2 linked regions of the Homo sapiens genome follow. The protein of the gene in region 1 binds, or shares a complex with, the protein of each later gene. Each region holds a gene or a part of one and is shown on either strand. Other genes may lie near its edges. A codon is read from its position in the direction of its gene.

Region 1 (8,048 bases):
AAATAAATGAAAAATGGTATTACATAGCATGTACTATCAATTGTGCAGATGTGGTGCACTCACTTAAACTGCTACACTTCACAACAGACAACAGGCTCCACTGAAGCCGTTCGGCTCTTCTTCCAGAGAAGTACAAATCCCCGAAGGAAACAAGGTCTTTCCATCTCCCTGCGGACATGTGCAGTTTCTCCGGCAGGTACTGGAAGGCGGATCCCACACTGGAGTATTCCGACCTTCAGCTGCACGACTGGTGCCAAATCCCCACTCCCTGGTGTCCCCAGACTTACTCTGATTGGTGTCAAGGGCTACACTCACACATTTTCCTGGTGACCAGTGAAGATGAGCATCTTTTTCATGTGTTTACCGGCCACCTGAATTTCCTCTTCTGGAGCTGCTTATTCATATTCTTTCCTCGTTTTTCTATCGGGTTGCTGTTCGTTTACTGTTTTTTGAGAAATTCTTTTGTGTATTCTAGAAATGAATATTTTGTCCATTAAATCCATTCTAACTCTCTCTTCCCAGTTGCTACCCCAAAATTTATATATTGGAGTCCTAACGCCAACGGGATGGTATTTGGAGATGAGGTCTTTGGGAGGTATAACTTAGGGTTAGGGCCGGGCGCGGTGGCTCACGCCTGTAATCCCAGCACTTTGGGATGCCGAGGCGGGTGGATCATGAGCTCAGGAGATCGAGACCATCCTGGTTAACACGGTGAAACCCCGGCTCTAGTAAAAATACAAAACAATTAGCCAGGCATGGTGGCGGGTGCCTGTGGTCCCAGCTACTGGGGAGGCTGAGGCAGGAGAATGGCATGAATCCGGGAGGCAGAGATTGCAGTGAGCTGAGATGGCGCCATTGCACTTCAGCCTGGACGACAGAGCAAGACTCCGTCTCAAAAAAAAATAATAATAATAATAATTAGGGTTAGATACGGTCAGCAAGGTGGGGCCCTCACGATGGGAACAGTGCCCTTATTAGAAGAGACAGTCTTTTTTTTTCTTTTTTCTTTTTTTGAGACGGAGTTTCACTCTTGCTGCCCAGGCTGGAGTGCCATGGCACAATCTCGATTCACTGCAACCTCCGCCTCCCAGGTTCTAGTGATTCTCCTGCCTCAGCCTCCCAAGTAGCTGGGATTACAGGCATGCACCACCATGCCTGGCTAATTTTTTGTATTTTTAGTAGAGATGGGGTTTCACCATGGCAAGCCTGGTCTTGAACTCCTGACCTCAGGTAATCCACCCGCATCGGTCTCCCAGAGTGCTGGGATTACAGGCGTGAGGCACCGTGCCCAGCCTTATTTTTATTTTATTGTTTTCCTTGAGATGGAGTTTCCCTCTTGTTGCCCAGGCTGGAGTGCAATGGTGGGATCTTGGCTCACTGCAACCTCCACCTCCCGGGTTCAAGTATTCTCCTGCCTCAGCCTCCCAGGTAGCTGGGATTACAGGACACGCCACCACGCTCAGCTAGTTTTTGTATTTTTAGTAGAGACAGGGTTTTACCATGTTGGCCAGGCTAGTCTCGAACTCCTGACCTCAGGTTATCCACCCGCCTTGGCCTCCTAAAGTGTTGGGATTACAGGCGTGAGCCATTACGCCCGCCTTTTTTTTTTTTTTGAGATAGTCTCGCTCTGTTGCCCAGGCTGGAGTGTAGTGGCTGGATCTCAGCTCATTGCAACCTCTGCCTCCCAGGCTCAAGTGATTACCCTGTTCAGCCTCCTGAGTAGCTGGGATTACACGCACCCGCCACCGCCCCCGGATAATTTTTTTTCTTTTTTTTTGAGACAGAGTCTCACTCCATCACCCAGGCTGCAGTACAGTGGTGTGATCTTGACTCACTGCAACCTCCACCTCCCGGGTTCAAGCAATTCTTTGCCTCAGCCTCCTGAGTAGCTGGGATTACAGGTGCCCGCCACCACGGCCGGCTAATATATACATATATTTTTTAGGTGGAGTCTCGCTCTGTCGCCAGGCTGGAGTGCAGTGGTGCGATCTTCGCTCACTGCAACCTCTGCCTCCCAGGTTCAAGCGATTCTCCTCCCTCAGGCTCCCGAGTAGCTGGGACTACAGGTGGGTGCCACCACACCCGGCTAATTTTTGTATTTTTAGTAGAGACAGGGTTTCACCATGTTTGCCAGGATGTTTTCGATCTCTTGACCTTGTGATCCGCCCACCTTGCCTCCCAAAGTGCTGGGATTATAGGCTGAGCAACCGCGCCCGGCCTAAATTTTCTATTTTTTAGTAGATACGGGGTTTCACCATCTTGGCCAGGCTGGTCTTGAACTCCTGACCTCGTGATCCACCCGCCTCGGCCTCCCAAAGTGCTGGAATTACAGGCATGAGCTCCCACGCCCAGCCCAAAAGAGACAATCTTTCTCCAACATGTGAGGACAGAGTGAGAAGATGGAGGCTATGCTTTGAATGTTTATACCCTCCAAAACGCATGTTGAGGCCAAGTGTGGTGACTCATGCCAATAATCCCAGCACTTTGGGAGGCCGAGGTGGGCGGATCACTTGAGGTCAGGAGTTTGAGACCAGCTTGACCAACATGGTGAAACCCCGGTCTCTACTAAAAATACAAAAAATTAGCCGGCCTTGGTGGCATACGCCTGTAATCCCAGCTACTCAGGAGGCTGAGGTAGGGGAATCACTTGAACCCGGGAGGCGGAGGTTGCAGTGACCAGAGATCGCGCCATTGCACTCCAGCCTGGGCGACAGAGTGAGACTCCATATCAAAAAAAAAAAAAAGATAATAAGGTGCTGCAGATCTGTGGTCTCAGCTACTGGAGAGGCTGAGGTGGGAGGATCTCTCTTCTATTTTTATTTTTTATTTTGGAGACGGAGTCTTGCTCTATCATCCAGGCTGGAGTGCAATGGTGCAATCTTGGCTCGCTGCAAGCTCTGCCTCCCGGGTTCACGCCTTTCTCCTGCCTCAGCCTCCCAAATAGCTGGGACTACAGGTGCCTGCCACCACACCTGGCTAATTTTTGTTTTTTTGTATTTTTAGTAGAGACGGGGTTTCACCGTGTTAGCCAGGATGGTCTCCATTTTCTGACCTCGTGATCCGCCCGCCTCAGCCTCCCACAGTCCTGGGATTACAGGCATGAGCTACCACACCTGGCCTAAGGTGGGAGGATCTCTTGAGCCTAGGAGGTTGAGGCTGCCGTGAGCTATGGTCGCACCACTGCACTGCAGCCTGGGCAACAGAGCAAAACCCTGTCTCGGGGAAAAAAAAGAAAAGAAAAGAAAAGAAGGAACTGCTACAGCCCACAGCCTACAAAGGGGACACAGATAGTAGCTCTGAACAGCAGACGGATAGACGGGAACTTGTCCCTTTAGTCTTTCATGAACAGCCTCTAACTGGTCCAGGCAGGGAGGTGCAGGCTTCCAGGCTGTGGTTCCATGGAGGACACCAGCCGGGCACGCAATGGACGTTTTCCAGCCCTAGCACAGACAGAGCGTGCGGGCCCCTGCTCTCAGAAAGCCAGCCTTCTGCCTCTGGCAGCGCCGGCACATAAAAGCAGAGGGAGCCTGCTGTCTCTGCCTCGCCCACACTAACACCCCTATTTAGAAAGGTTGACACATCACTATCACTGCTTCTGAAAATTTTATCCGGCCGAAGGCATCAGCCCAAATTTGAATTCTTGCCAAAGCTGCTGGTGATTTCGTTCTTTGAATGCAGTATCTTCCTCATGAACACGTACAGCTCTTACAAGAAAATGAGAATACGGTTTGGGGAGGAGGATCCCTCACATTCCTTTTCCTAATGCCAGCCTCGCGAAGTCTGGTCCCATGTACCCTGGGATTCTGCCACGGAAGATGACTCACTTAATTAACACGCTGCTCCTGACCGTACACTTGGAAGCAGAGGTTCCGTTCCTTTGGTTCTTGCCAAAGCTGCTTACGAAACCATATCTTGTGTTGGTGCCCATGGTGTGTAAAAATACAAGTTCATCATTTCCCTGATACAAATTATGACAGGCTAAATTTAGTGCCTCACCTGTCCTAACTAGCTTTCCCACCATCATGCCTGCCGCCGGGCTGTGGTCCTTTCTGAGGTCCCGTGTCCCTCTGAGGACAGGGACACCCAGACACAGAGGTCAGTTGTCAGACGCGGCCACGGTGCTCGGGAGGCTGGCTGCAGACGGGCGATTCACCCTGGGTGTCTTCTTGAGTCTTATTTTTTGTAGAGACGAGGTCTCGCTTTGGTGCTCAGGCTGGTCTCAATCTCCTGGGCGCAAGCGATCCTCCCGCTTGGGCGTGGGCCAGCGCGCCCGTCCCAACGCTGGGAGTCCCGGAGATCTTGGTCACAGGCTTAAGGGAAAGGCCTAGCGCGTGGCCGCGCGTGCCTCTGGTTTCAAGGGACATGGACTGCGTGTCTGGGGCCCCTCCGCACTCCGTGTCAGACCCTGCGTCCCCCGGGTCCGCGCGGGACCCGGGCAGGGCGTCGCCCTCTGCGGCGTCTGCGCCCCGCGAACCCTGGGGCACCTGCAACCCCTGGGCCGCGGAGCCAGGCGTGCGCCGCCTCCTGGTCTCATCAACGTGAGAACGCTTTACCCCCGAAGAGCTCAGCTCCTAGGGGGCTATGTCCCTTTGCGTCTCTCGCTCGCCAGGCGGTGCCGTTTACTCGACCGCACCATGCGTGGGTAGCGGTCGCGCCCGCTGGTAGCTGTGCGGCGGGAACACGTTCTAAGTAAGGCCTGACTCCGCGCGCCTCTTGCCAGGGACGTCACGTCACGCCTCCACTCGCAGCCTCGGAGCACCCCCGCGTCCCGCGCCCGAAGCTCGGGACCCCCGCTCTGGCGAAACGAGGAATATGACATACAGCAAAACACCCCTTCGCGGCCGCTGCACTGCCGCGACACACCCGGCGCCTGCCTCTACAGCAAGCCGGCGAGGGGCTGGGACCCCGCCGGGACGTGCTGACGTCAGGCCCGACGGGGGGCGGGGCCTGGGCGGCGGCGGCGTTAGTTCTCCGGGTACCTCAGGCGCCTCAGCCTCCTTAGTCTCCTCATCCTGCTTCACAGGCTCCGCGGCCTCCGGCCTCCTCGGCCCCCGTCCCCCGGCCTCCTCGGCCCCCGTCCCCCGCCATCCGCCGCCCGGATCCTCGCCGCCCTCCCTAGGCCGCCCCGCCGCCATGGGCCTGCGCCCGCCGCGCCGCCGGGCCGAGGGCAGCTGAGGCGCGGTGCGAAGATGGGCGAGGACAGAGCAGGGCCCGAGCGCCAGCCCCAGCAGCCCGGGCGCCCCGCGCGCGCCCGCCCGCGCCGCCGAGGGGATGCCCGCGCCCGCCGCCGCGCCCTGAGCGCCTTTGTCTGCCGCCCGCGCCCTTCCGCACCACTAGCCTCTCGGGAGCATGGCGTCGGCCCCGCCGGCCTCGCCCCCGGGCTCGGAGCCGCCGGGGCCCGACCCGGAGCCGGGCGGGCCGGACGGGCCGGGGGCGGCACAACTGGCTCCGGGCCCTGCGGAGCTACGCCTCGGAGCGCCCGTCGGCGGCCCCGACCCGCAGTCCCCGGGCCTGGATGAGCCTGCGCCCGGGGCCGCTGCAGATGGCGGGGCGCGTTGGAGCGCCGGGCCGGCCCCGGGGCTGGAGGGAGGCCCGCGAGACCCCGGGCCGTCCGCCCCGCCGCCGCGCTCCGGCCCGCGGGGGCAGCTTGCGAGCCCCGACGCCCCGGGCCCAGGGCCGCGCTCCGAAGCGCCGCTTCCAGAACTCGACCCGTTGTTCTCCTGGACTGAGGAGCCCGAGGAGTGTGGCCCCGCGAGCTGCCCGGAGAGCGCGCCTTTCCGCTTGCAGGGGTCCAGCAGCAGCCACCGAGCGCGGGGCGAGGTCGACGTCTTCTCTCCCTTCCCCGCGCCCACGGCGGGCGAGCTGGCGCTGGAGCAAGGTCCCGGGTCCCCGCCGCAGCCCTCGGACCTCAGCCAGACCCACCCCCTTCCGAGCGAGCCCGTGGGGAGTCAGGAGGACGGCCCCCGCCTCCGAGCCGTGTTCGATGCCCTGGACGGGGATGGGGACGGTTTCGTCCGCATCGAGGACTTCATCCAGTTTGCTACGGTCTACGGGGCAGAGCAGGTACGGAGCGGCCCGGGCCGGGGCGTGGGAACTGGGCAGGTGCGCGCTGGCCGGCGGGGTTGATGTGGGACCGGTCGACGCTGCCCCTGGAGTCGGGAAAGGCACTGTCAAGACCTGACGGTCCTGCTTTTTCTGCTTATTCACCACTTCGGCCCTGGATTTCTGGTTGAATTGCGCTGGAGTCCCTCTTCCCTTCTTAAAAGGAGGTTCTATTCTGGGGAGTCAGTTTCTTCCCCTCCCCCCAGCGCCTCGTCAGCTGGATCTTACCGAGGTCAGCTCCTCGCCTGGGGACACCCCCCCAGGGGGCCTGATCGCCACCCCCCCAGGGTGCCTGATCGACGTGCCCCTGAATGAAGAAGTTCCCCGCGATTCCCCCACCCGAGGGCCCAGATACTGCTCGGCTGAATTCACCCAAGTTCTAGCCGCAGAGGCCAGGCTGCCCAGACGCCTTGAGATCCTACTGATAGACACCTATTTTGAGTACAATTACTTTACTGTGTGTGGTTGACATCTTTTCTACTTAGATTTCATCTTTTATTTGGGAGACAGTCAATGCTTGTAGAGAGTCCTGGAATTAAGAATTTTTACTTTGGTGCCTTTGGGGAGGAAGGCAATGAGCCTCGGAGCTTGTTGGCAAATGCAGAAGTCTAGCAGAACTCCGTTAGGGCCACGTCCACTCTCGTAGGAGAGGTGAAATGCGTGGACAGGCACTACGCACAGTACAGTGTGGAAGGGGTCCACGCGGTCCTCAGGGCACCTGCTCCTGGGGGAAAGGTGGGCCCCAAGATGCAGTTGTTCCTGTCTACCTCAGCACTTAATAAAGTTTAAGTGGAGATAACAGCAGGGCCGTGTGTGTTCTGCCAATAACCCGGTGGACATCAAATAATACCAGTGCTCACTTTTAAATATTTTACTTAGCAGGAAATCCCTAAGGTGCATCTGTCAATTTTTTGTATTTTGACTTCTCACACATGCAGACATCTGGTAAGTGGGTGTTCAAGTACATATGCATGTTTAAGCCAAGAGGTCTGTAAGAAAAGAGGTAAAATTGGCACACTGCTATTTAGGGTGTCAGTCATAACATTAAGAACCTTGATGGTCGGGCGCGGTGGCTCATGCCTGTAATCCCAGCACTTTAGGAGGCCGAGGCGGGCGGATCACGAGGTCAGGAGATTGAGACCATCCTGGCTAATATGGTGAAACCCCGTCTCCACTAAAAAATACAAAAAAATTAGTCGGGCGTGGTGGCGGGCACCTGTACTCCTAGCTACTCGGGAGGCTGAGGCAGGAGAATGGCGTGAACCCGGGAGGCGGAGCTTGCAGTGAGCGGAGATCGCGCCACTGCACTCCAGCCTGGGCGACAGAGCGAGACTTCGTCTCAAAAAAAAAAAACAGCAACAAAACAAAAAACACAGGGTCCTGATAAATCAGGGTTCCTTGCTGAGTTCACATTAAGAAGATGTGCAGACAGGTGCGTGCGGGGCAGCCTGCAATGCTCGCAAGCTTAGCTCCGGTTGGGATATTGTCAGGGTAGTTTTCCACCTACACTAATGGGCAGTGAAATATGTGACTGATACTTTCCTGTATGGTCAGCGTGGATGGTGGTTGCTGGTCCAGGTGTTTTGCTGCGTTTCCTTCTTGCCCCTGGGCTGGAGAGCACCTTGAGCTCCCTTGGTTGCTGTTGGCTACTGCGCTGTCTCTTCTCCCAAACATACTCTTGCTTCAGTACAGCAAAGAAGTTAGGAGAGTACCACATTTGCTCCTTGTTACCATAACCCAACTCTTGATAGAGAACTTCTGTGAGGCTCAGGATGTTTCCACTGGATCATACCACAGTTCTCTGAGATAGTAGGTAAGCAGGATTCATCCCCACTTTACAGGTAAGAAACTGGAAACCCAGAAAGGTCAGATAGCTCTCCCAAGGTCTCACAGGAGTAGAACTAGGTCTTTTGGCCCTTAGACCTTAGATGCCTCTTCTTAGATGT
Region 2 (7,266 bases), on another chromosome or scaffold:
ATGACGCGATCTCGGCTCATTGCAACCTCTGCTTCCTGGGTTCAAGCGATTTTCCTGCCTCAGTCTCCCGAGTAGCTGGGATTACAGGCATGGACCACCACACCCGGCTAATTTTGTATTTCTAGTAGAGACGGGGTTTCTCCATGTTGGTCAGGCTGGTCTCGAACTCCTGACCTCAGGTGATCCGCCCGCCTGGGCCTCCCAAAGTGCTGGGATTACTGGTGTGAGCCACCGTGCCTGGCCAGATTTCTACTTTTTTAAAGCTCTTACAGGATATGAGTCACTTTTTCTTTTTCTTTTTTAACTTCAATGCTGATTATTTAGCCAATTTCTTATTTATACAAGTATCCTACTTTAAAGTGAAGCAAGAATGATTTTATTTCAAAATGGCTTTATTGTACAGAGATTTATTCACTGAGATGGACTGCAGCTGTTTCTACTTAGAAGGTTTACCTAGCAAATGCAATAGTTGAGGGAATTGGAGTTAGTTTGTAACTAACCAGTTCAAAATAAAGGGATATTTTGATTAATAGGGGATGGAGTGGTCTAAATAGGAATGTAATGTGGGGCGAGCAGGACAATTATTCTAAATTATGTGTTTGTTCTTGAACAGTAACCTTTATTTAAGCCCAATAGTGAGACTTTTGGTGGGAGGGAATTAGTTTTATTTTATTTAAAGTTGACTTTTTATTTTTAAAACTTTAATTCCTTAAGTATTTACGAACAATGTGGTTAAGGCCCTGTGGGACATAAGTAAGCATCAATCATGATTTCTGTTTACAAATATTGTGTGGTAGACACCAATCCACAGTTAGATTTTCTGAAAATATCTGGATACATAGTCTATTGCTTAAGACATTTTCTTTTCAATCACATTGGAGGTCAGTAGTAATTAACCATCAGCTGATTGTCAGTAGAAATTATCATAGGAACTTTGCTGTCTTGCATCTTGGTAGTAGTTTTTCTTTCACAAGTTTTGGTTGAGCAACTCAGATTCTGCTGAATCTGGAAAAACTTGTCTAGACTTGAGCCTTATTGTATGCATTATATCTATATCTATATCTATATATATATATTTTTTGAGGCAGGGTCTCCCTCTGTTGCCCAGTCTGGAGTGCCATGGCACAGTCATAGCCCACTGCAGCCTCAAATTCCTGTGCTCAAGAAATCCTCCTGCCTCAGCCTCCCAAGTAGCTGCAACTACAAATGTGCTCCACCATGCCTGGCTATTTTTTTTTTTTTAAGACTATCCCACTTACAGAAATAAAATTTTCTTTTTTGTAGAGATAGGGTCTCCCTACGTTGCCCAGGCTGGTCTCAAACTCCTGGGCTCAAGGGATCCTCCCACCTTGGCCTCTCAGAGTGCTGAGATTACAGGCATGAGCCACTGTGTCCTGCCTTGAACGCATTGTATATTAAAAACTTTTGAGGAGGTTGGACTATGAATATAGTTGAAAGAATAGAAATGTCTCCAAATTTATGAAAACTAGAATGAAAATTACCAGTTATTCTCTCACGTGGTAACTTTTAGGGTTGAGGTACTGTCTTTGATGAATTATATTTTAGTCCAGTAAATTAGTTTGCAAGAGAAAGTATAAAACTAAATGTGGTTGAAGAGGCAGAAATTTTCAATGGATAATTAATATGTATATTCTGCTTTTATGCATTTAGCAGCTTGATATTCAGTATTAGGTATTTGCGATGATACTCAAATACAGCAGATGTCTAGTTGATAACTTTTTTTTTTTTTTTTGAGATGGAGTTTCACTCTTGTTGCCCAGGCTGGAGTGCAATGGCGCGATTTCAGCTTACTGCGATTTCAGCTTACTGCAACCTCCGCCTCCCGCTTCAAGCAATTCTCCTGCTTCGGCCTCCTGAGTAGCTGGGACTACGGGCATGCGCCACCACACCTGGCTAATTTTGTGTTTTTAGTAGAGATGAGGTTTCTCCATGTTGGTCAGGCTGGTCTCAAACTCCCGACCTCAGGTGATCCACCCTCCTTGGCCTTCCAAAGTGCTGGGATTACAGGTGTGAGCCACCACGCCCGGCCTAGTTGAGATAACTTTTTAAAACATTCATGAATTTTGAGTTATTTTCAGATTAGAGTGCTTTTTTTTTGTAGTGTTAACATTAATTGGTTACATTAAGAGAAAAGTTCCCTTGCTATCTTTATGATGGTATAAGGAGTTGAGATTGGTGAGATAATGAACATAATCATTAGTTAAAAGTGGAGGTCAAAAGGGAGGAAACCAAAACTTGAAAGTGCTGGAGTTGGCCGGGCATGGTGGCTCATACCTGTAATCCCAGTACTTTGGGAGGCCAAAGCGAGTGGATCTTTTGAGCCCTGGAGTTTGAGACCCAGCCTGGGCAACATGGCAAAACCCCATCTCTACAGAAAATACAAAAAATTAGCTGAGCGTGTTGGCATGTGCCTGTAGTTCCAGCTACTAGGGAGGCTGAGGTGGGAGGATCCTCTGAGCCTGGGAGGTCTAGGCTGCAGTGGGCTCTGCTTGTGCCGTGGCACTCCAGCCTGGGCGACAGTGAGACCCTGTCTCAAAAAAAGAAAGAAAGAAAGAAAGTGCTGGAAGTTTTTTTTTTGAGACAAGTTCTGGCTCTACTCCCCCGGCTAGAGTACAGTGGTGCACAGTCCAGGCTCACCACAACCTCTGCCTCCCAGGCTCAAGCCATTTGCCCACCTCAGCCTCCTGAGTAGTTGGGACTACAGGCATGCACCACCGTGCCTGTCTAATTTTTTTGTTTGTATTTATTCATGTATTTTTTGTGTATTTTTTTGTATTTAAATTTTTTTTTTTGTATAAGTGATTCAAAGGCCATTTCCTTAGCAAACATCCAGCCTTTTGTACTAAGAGGCAACAGTGAATGTATCCTATTAATAATAGACTATTAACTGAAACTGAGATTTGACTTCATATCCAGAATGGTGGACCTTGGAAACTAGTATATCAACTAACCATCCTATAAAATTGAAAGTGCATTGCTTTTGTACATCACTTTAATAACTTTGACATTTTCTTCTGATATCAAATAAAAGCATGTATGTGTTTGCCACAGCATCTTTGACACCCTCTAGTTGACTCTCTAGTTAGAAATAACCATTCTTTGTGCTGCATTGGATTCACTGCCTCCTGAATGATTTCTTGCTGAATCAGCTGACTGAGAAAGCCAGAAAGATATGCATTTGATAATGTACTCTGTCCAAGACTGTCCAGAGGCTAGCTTATATCCACTCCTGTGGCAAGGAGGGAATGTATAATGGACTCTCTTTGCCCTCTGACCAGAATGCAGTGAGCTCTCAGTTTTTACCATTCTTTCCACTCGTACCACCATCCCAGTCTCTTTAGTAAGGAATGGTCTTACTCCTTGGCCTTATTTTTGTATGTTTGATTTTCTAGTCCTGATGTCTAAATCAATTAGCTAGTTTAGATAAGAAGAAGTCTTAGTAGTCAAAAGTAGGAACGAATGTAATGTTTCCTGAAATGCTGATACCAATTTTTACAAAGGAAAAAATATCTAGCTCAGATTCTATAAACGTGTGAACTCATTTTGAACTTTAAATTCAGATAGAAAATGTTTTAAAACAACTTAACTGCCTGTTTCTCCATTGTTTTTGAAATTCTTAAGCGTAATACCACTTTGAGTGAAAAAGAATCTCCATGTATCTAGTTAGTAAATAAACTGCTGCCTATAGAAATCACAGGAAGCAAATTCATCTAATCAAGACCTATTTTCAAAAAAATCATGGAGTCATAAGTGAAAGTATATGCCCTCCTTGCTTTGTTGTATTTTATTTTATTTATTTTTTTAAGACAGAGTCTCAGTGTGTCGCCCAGGCTGGAGTGCAGTGACACAATCTCGGCCCACTGCAACCTCTGCTTCCCGGGTTCAAGCTATTCTCATGCCTCAGGCCCACAAGTAGTTGGGATTACATGCGCCCACCACCACACCTGGCTAATTTTTGTATTTTTATAGAGATGGGGTTTTCACCATGTTGGCCAGGCTAGTCTCGAACTCTTGGCGTCAAGCAATCCGCCCACCTTGGCCTTCCAAAATGCTGGGATTACAGGTGTGAGCCACCACACCCGGCACTTGCTTTGGTTTTGACTCACAGTATGTCAGAATTATTAGTTTCCTAATACCCCCTGTTTATCTGTAGTGGCTTGGGTTTTTTTGGCAGAGGGGTCTCTAACTTTGAACCAATCTGATAAATGCAACTATTAAAGGTCATTTTAGTTTCTGTGATCTGTATGGTGATGTTTATAAACCCTATGCCTCATATGTTAAATGTTTTTCATTTTGCCTAGGTCTCAGTCCTGAGGTCACACCCAGTCTTTGATGAAACGAAGTATATTCATTTTGTCCTTCCCTACCCACTAACAGCCTTTGTTGTTTTCATTTCTGATACATTACATTTTAATATCATAAATTATTCATTTAGTTTAGGATTTATCTTTGAAGTTGTTATCTTCTAAAGTAGTAAGATTGGCATAGCATTGACGGTAATTAATGCCTGTCATCAATGCCAAGGGCATCTGTGATTAAAACTGCATGTTTAAGACAGGGTACCGTATCTGTGCTAAGCAGATGATATGTGGAAGTCATGCAGGTAGAAACAGGTTGAAAAGAATAAATCGGTTTTATTGATTGGTAACTGGTCAAGAACATGCTGTTCAACCCCCTACCCCCATTCCTTTTTAAAAGTCATATACCTTATTTTTCTTGCTTTATTTACTCTGAAGCCAAACTTCATTCTGTTGAAAGCATAGTGGTGTTCTGAATATGTTTGCCTCATTCATCTGACATTGAATTCTTTGTCTTTCCAGTTGTCCTTATTGGAGATTCTGGTGTTGGAAAGAGTAATCTCCTGTCTCGATTTACTCGAAATGAGTTTAATCTGGAAAGCAAGAGCACCATTGGAGTAGAGTTTGCAACAAGAAGCATCCAGGTTGATGGAAAAACAATAAAGGCACAGATATGGGACACAGCAGGGCAAGAGCGATATCGAGCTATAACATCAGCGTAAGTCTCATGGTTTTTAAGTTCTGTGAAATGGGTTGCCATCGAGTGAATTAGCTGACTTTTGGTATTGGAAAAAGAACTGTTGTTTTTTTCTTTTAAGAATTCTAGTATTAGGAATCCTTAGAAATTTATTTATAAGTATGTTTTTAAAACTCATGATCCATATTTTGAGTTCTTCCTGGTGTTTGCTTCCATCTTGTGGTTTTCTGATACTAAATATGTTTCTGTTTTCAGATATTATCGTGGAGCTGTAGGTGCCTTATTGGTTTATGACATTGCTAAACATCTCACATATGAAAATGTAGAGCGATGGCTGAAAGAACTGAGAGATCATGCTGATAGTAACATTGTTATCATGCTTGTGGGCAATAAGAGTGATCTACGTCATCTCAGGGCAGTTCCTACAGATGAAGCAAGAGCTTTTGCAGGTTAGTGATAGGAATTCCATGATATTTCTTACCATTGTGTCTTGTGGTTTTGATACCTTCCAATGAGAGTAATAGGTTATAATAGTTTCAGAGAGGTAAACATGAATGCTTAGCAAGAATTGTTTTGAAAGTTTGTGATGACTGTATAGCTTTTTTGCTTTGAGTCATTAAAACACTAATATTTTGCTGCCAAAAAATGAATATAAACATTGTATATTCTGTCTCTTTTTCTGTTATGTTTCTGTGTTTACAAAGGCTGCTGTACGTGAGCTCTATGTGAGTGAAAGGCAGAGGCTCAGGGAGTGTCAGGGACCAACAGGGATGCAGCTGCTTAGGAGCTGTAACTTTTTGGCTTCATAAAGAATTCACGTGTCTCTTGCCCCTGTTCTGGTAGGGACAGCATGCCAGAAGACAACATTGTGCATTGTGGCTAGTGAAAGTCTTGCGGCCGGGCGTGGTGGCTCATGCCTGTAATCCCAGCACTTTGGGAGGCTGAGGTGAGTGGATCATGAGGTCAGGAGATTGAGACCATCTTGGCTAACATGGTGAAACCCCGTCTCTACTAAAAATACAAAAAACCGGGCGCGGTGGCGGGCGCCTGTAGTCCCAGCTACTCGGGAGGCTGAGGCAGGAGAATGGCGTGAACCCGGGAGCAGAGCTTGCAGTGAGCCGAGATAGCGCCACTGCAGTCCGGCCTGGGCGAAAGAGCGAGACTCCGTCCCAAAAAAACAAAACAAAACAAACAAAAAAAGAGAGAAAGTCTTGCCTTTGCACTAATGCTTATGCTATGAATAACTTTCTGTAACAGTTTTTTAAATTTCCCATGCAAGAATAGCTTTATTGTAAATAATATGGCTACAACATACGGAATACTATAGCCAATGTAGTTGATGGAGAGGATAGCAAGAGATGGAAATAACTGGGCACTTGATACATTTTTACCACATTTTAAGTGGTGTCATTCGTCACTAGTGAGTAGTACTTAGATATAACAAGTATTTATTTTAATTAAGGAGCCAATTGACAATTTCTCACTTTTTTTTTTTTTTTTTTTGGGAGCCAGGATCTCACTCTGTGACCCATTCTGGAGTGGAGTGGCACAGTCAAGGCTCACTGCAGCCTCGACCTCCTGGGCTCTAGTGATCTTCCACCTCAGCCTCCTAAGTAGCTGAGACTGCTGGTGTGTGTCACCACGCTCAGCTAATTTTTAGTATTCTTTATATAGAGAGAGCAAAACCTCTCTCCAGTGTTTTGCCATGTTGCCCAGGCTGGTCTTGAACTCCTGGGCTCAAGCAATCCGCCTGCCTTGGCCTGCCAAAGTCCTGGGATTACAGGAGTGAGCCACCATGCCCAGCTCTCTTGCTATTATTTTTAATCTATTAAAGTGTAAATATTAAAGTGTAAGTAGGGTCGGGCATGGTGGCTCATGCCTGTAATCTCAGCATTTTGGGAGATGGAGGCAGGAGAAACTCTTGAGGCCAGGAGTTCAAGACCAGGCTGGGCAACCTAGTGAGACCTGCATCTCTACTTATATAAAGAAGTAAATAAAGTAAGTAAATAAATAAAGTGTAAACAGAATGGTGCCCTTACTGTCCCAGAAGTTGAGGAGGTCTTAAGTTTTAAAAAGTTCTGTTATTTTTCCTTTTGAGGGCTTGAGTATATCCTATTCCTTGTTTTAAAACTTAACAAGACTGAACTTTTGTGTCTCCCCTCAGAAAAGAATGGTTTGTCATTCATTGAAACTTCGGCCCTAGACTCTACAAATGTAGAAGCTGCTTTTCAGACAATTTTAACAGGTAAG

Evidence for each region.
Region 2: the proteins of RAB11FIP3 (region 1) and RAB11A are in contact, whole or in part, in a crystal structure (PDB 2HV8), measured with the Homo sapiens proteins. Residues at the interface, in NP_055515.1 of Homo sapiens: Asn731, Phe732, Gln735, Ile738, Asp739, Arg740, Ile742, Val743, Met746, Glu747, Pro750, Ser751, Leu753, Glu754, Val755, Lys756; in NP_004654.1 of Homo sapiens: Arg33 (codon at 4,898), Ile44 (codon at 4,931), Gly45 (codon at 4,934), Val46 (codon at 4,937), Glu47 (codon at 4,940), Phe48 (codon at 4,943), Ala49 (codon at 4,946), Thr50 (codon at 4,949), Trp65 (codon at 4,994), Arg72 (codon at 5,015), Arg74 (codon at 5,021), Ala75 (codon at 5,024), Ile76 (codon at 5,027), Ala79 (codon at 5,036), Tyr80 (codon at 5,273), Arg82 (codon at 5,279).

What each region holds. Positions count from the first base shown.
Region 1 is NC_000016.10:420,658-428,705, forward strand, and holds the start of RAB11FIP3 (rab11 family-interacting protein 3), read left to right. Parts: upstream 1-4,991; 5' UTR 4,992-5,349; coding exon 5,350-6,063; intron 6,064-8,048. UniProt on the Homo sapiens protein: Downstream effector molecule for Rab11 GTPase which is involved in endocytic trafficking, cytokinesis and intracellular ciliogenesis by participating in membrane delivery. Recruited by Rab11 to endosomes where it links Rab11 to dynein motor complex.
Region 2 is NC_000015.10:65,872,491-65,879,756, forward strand, and holds part of RAB11A (ras-related protein Rab-11A), read left to right. Parts: intron 1-4,841; coding exon 4,842-5,037; intron 5,038-5,271; coding exon 5,272-5,465; intron 5,466-7,180; coding exon 7,181-7,261; intron 7,262-7,266. UniProt on the Homo sapiens protein: The small GTPases Rab are key regulators of intracellular membrane trafficking, from the formation of transport vesicles to their fusion with membranes.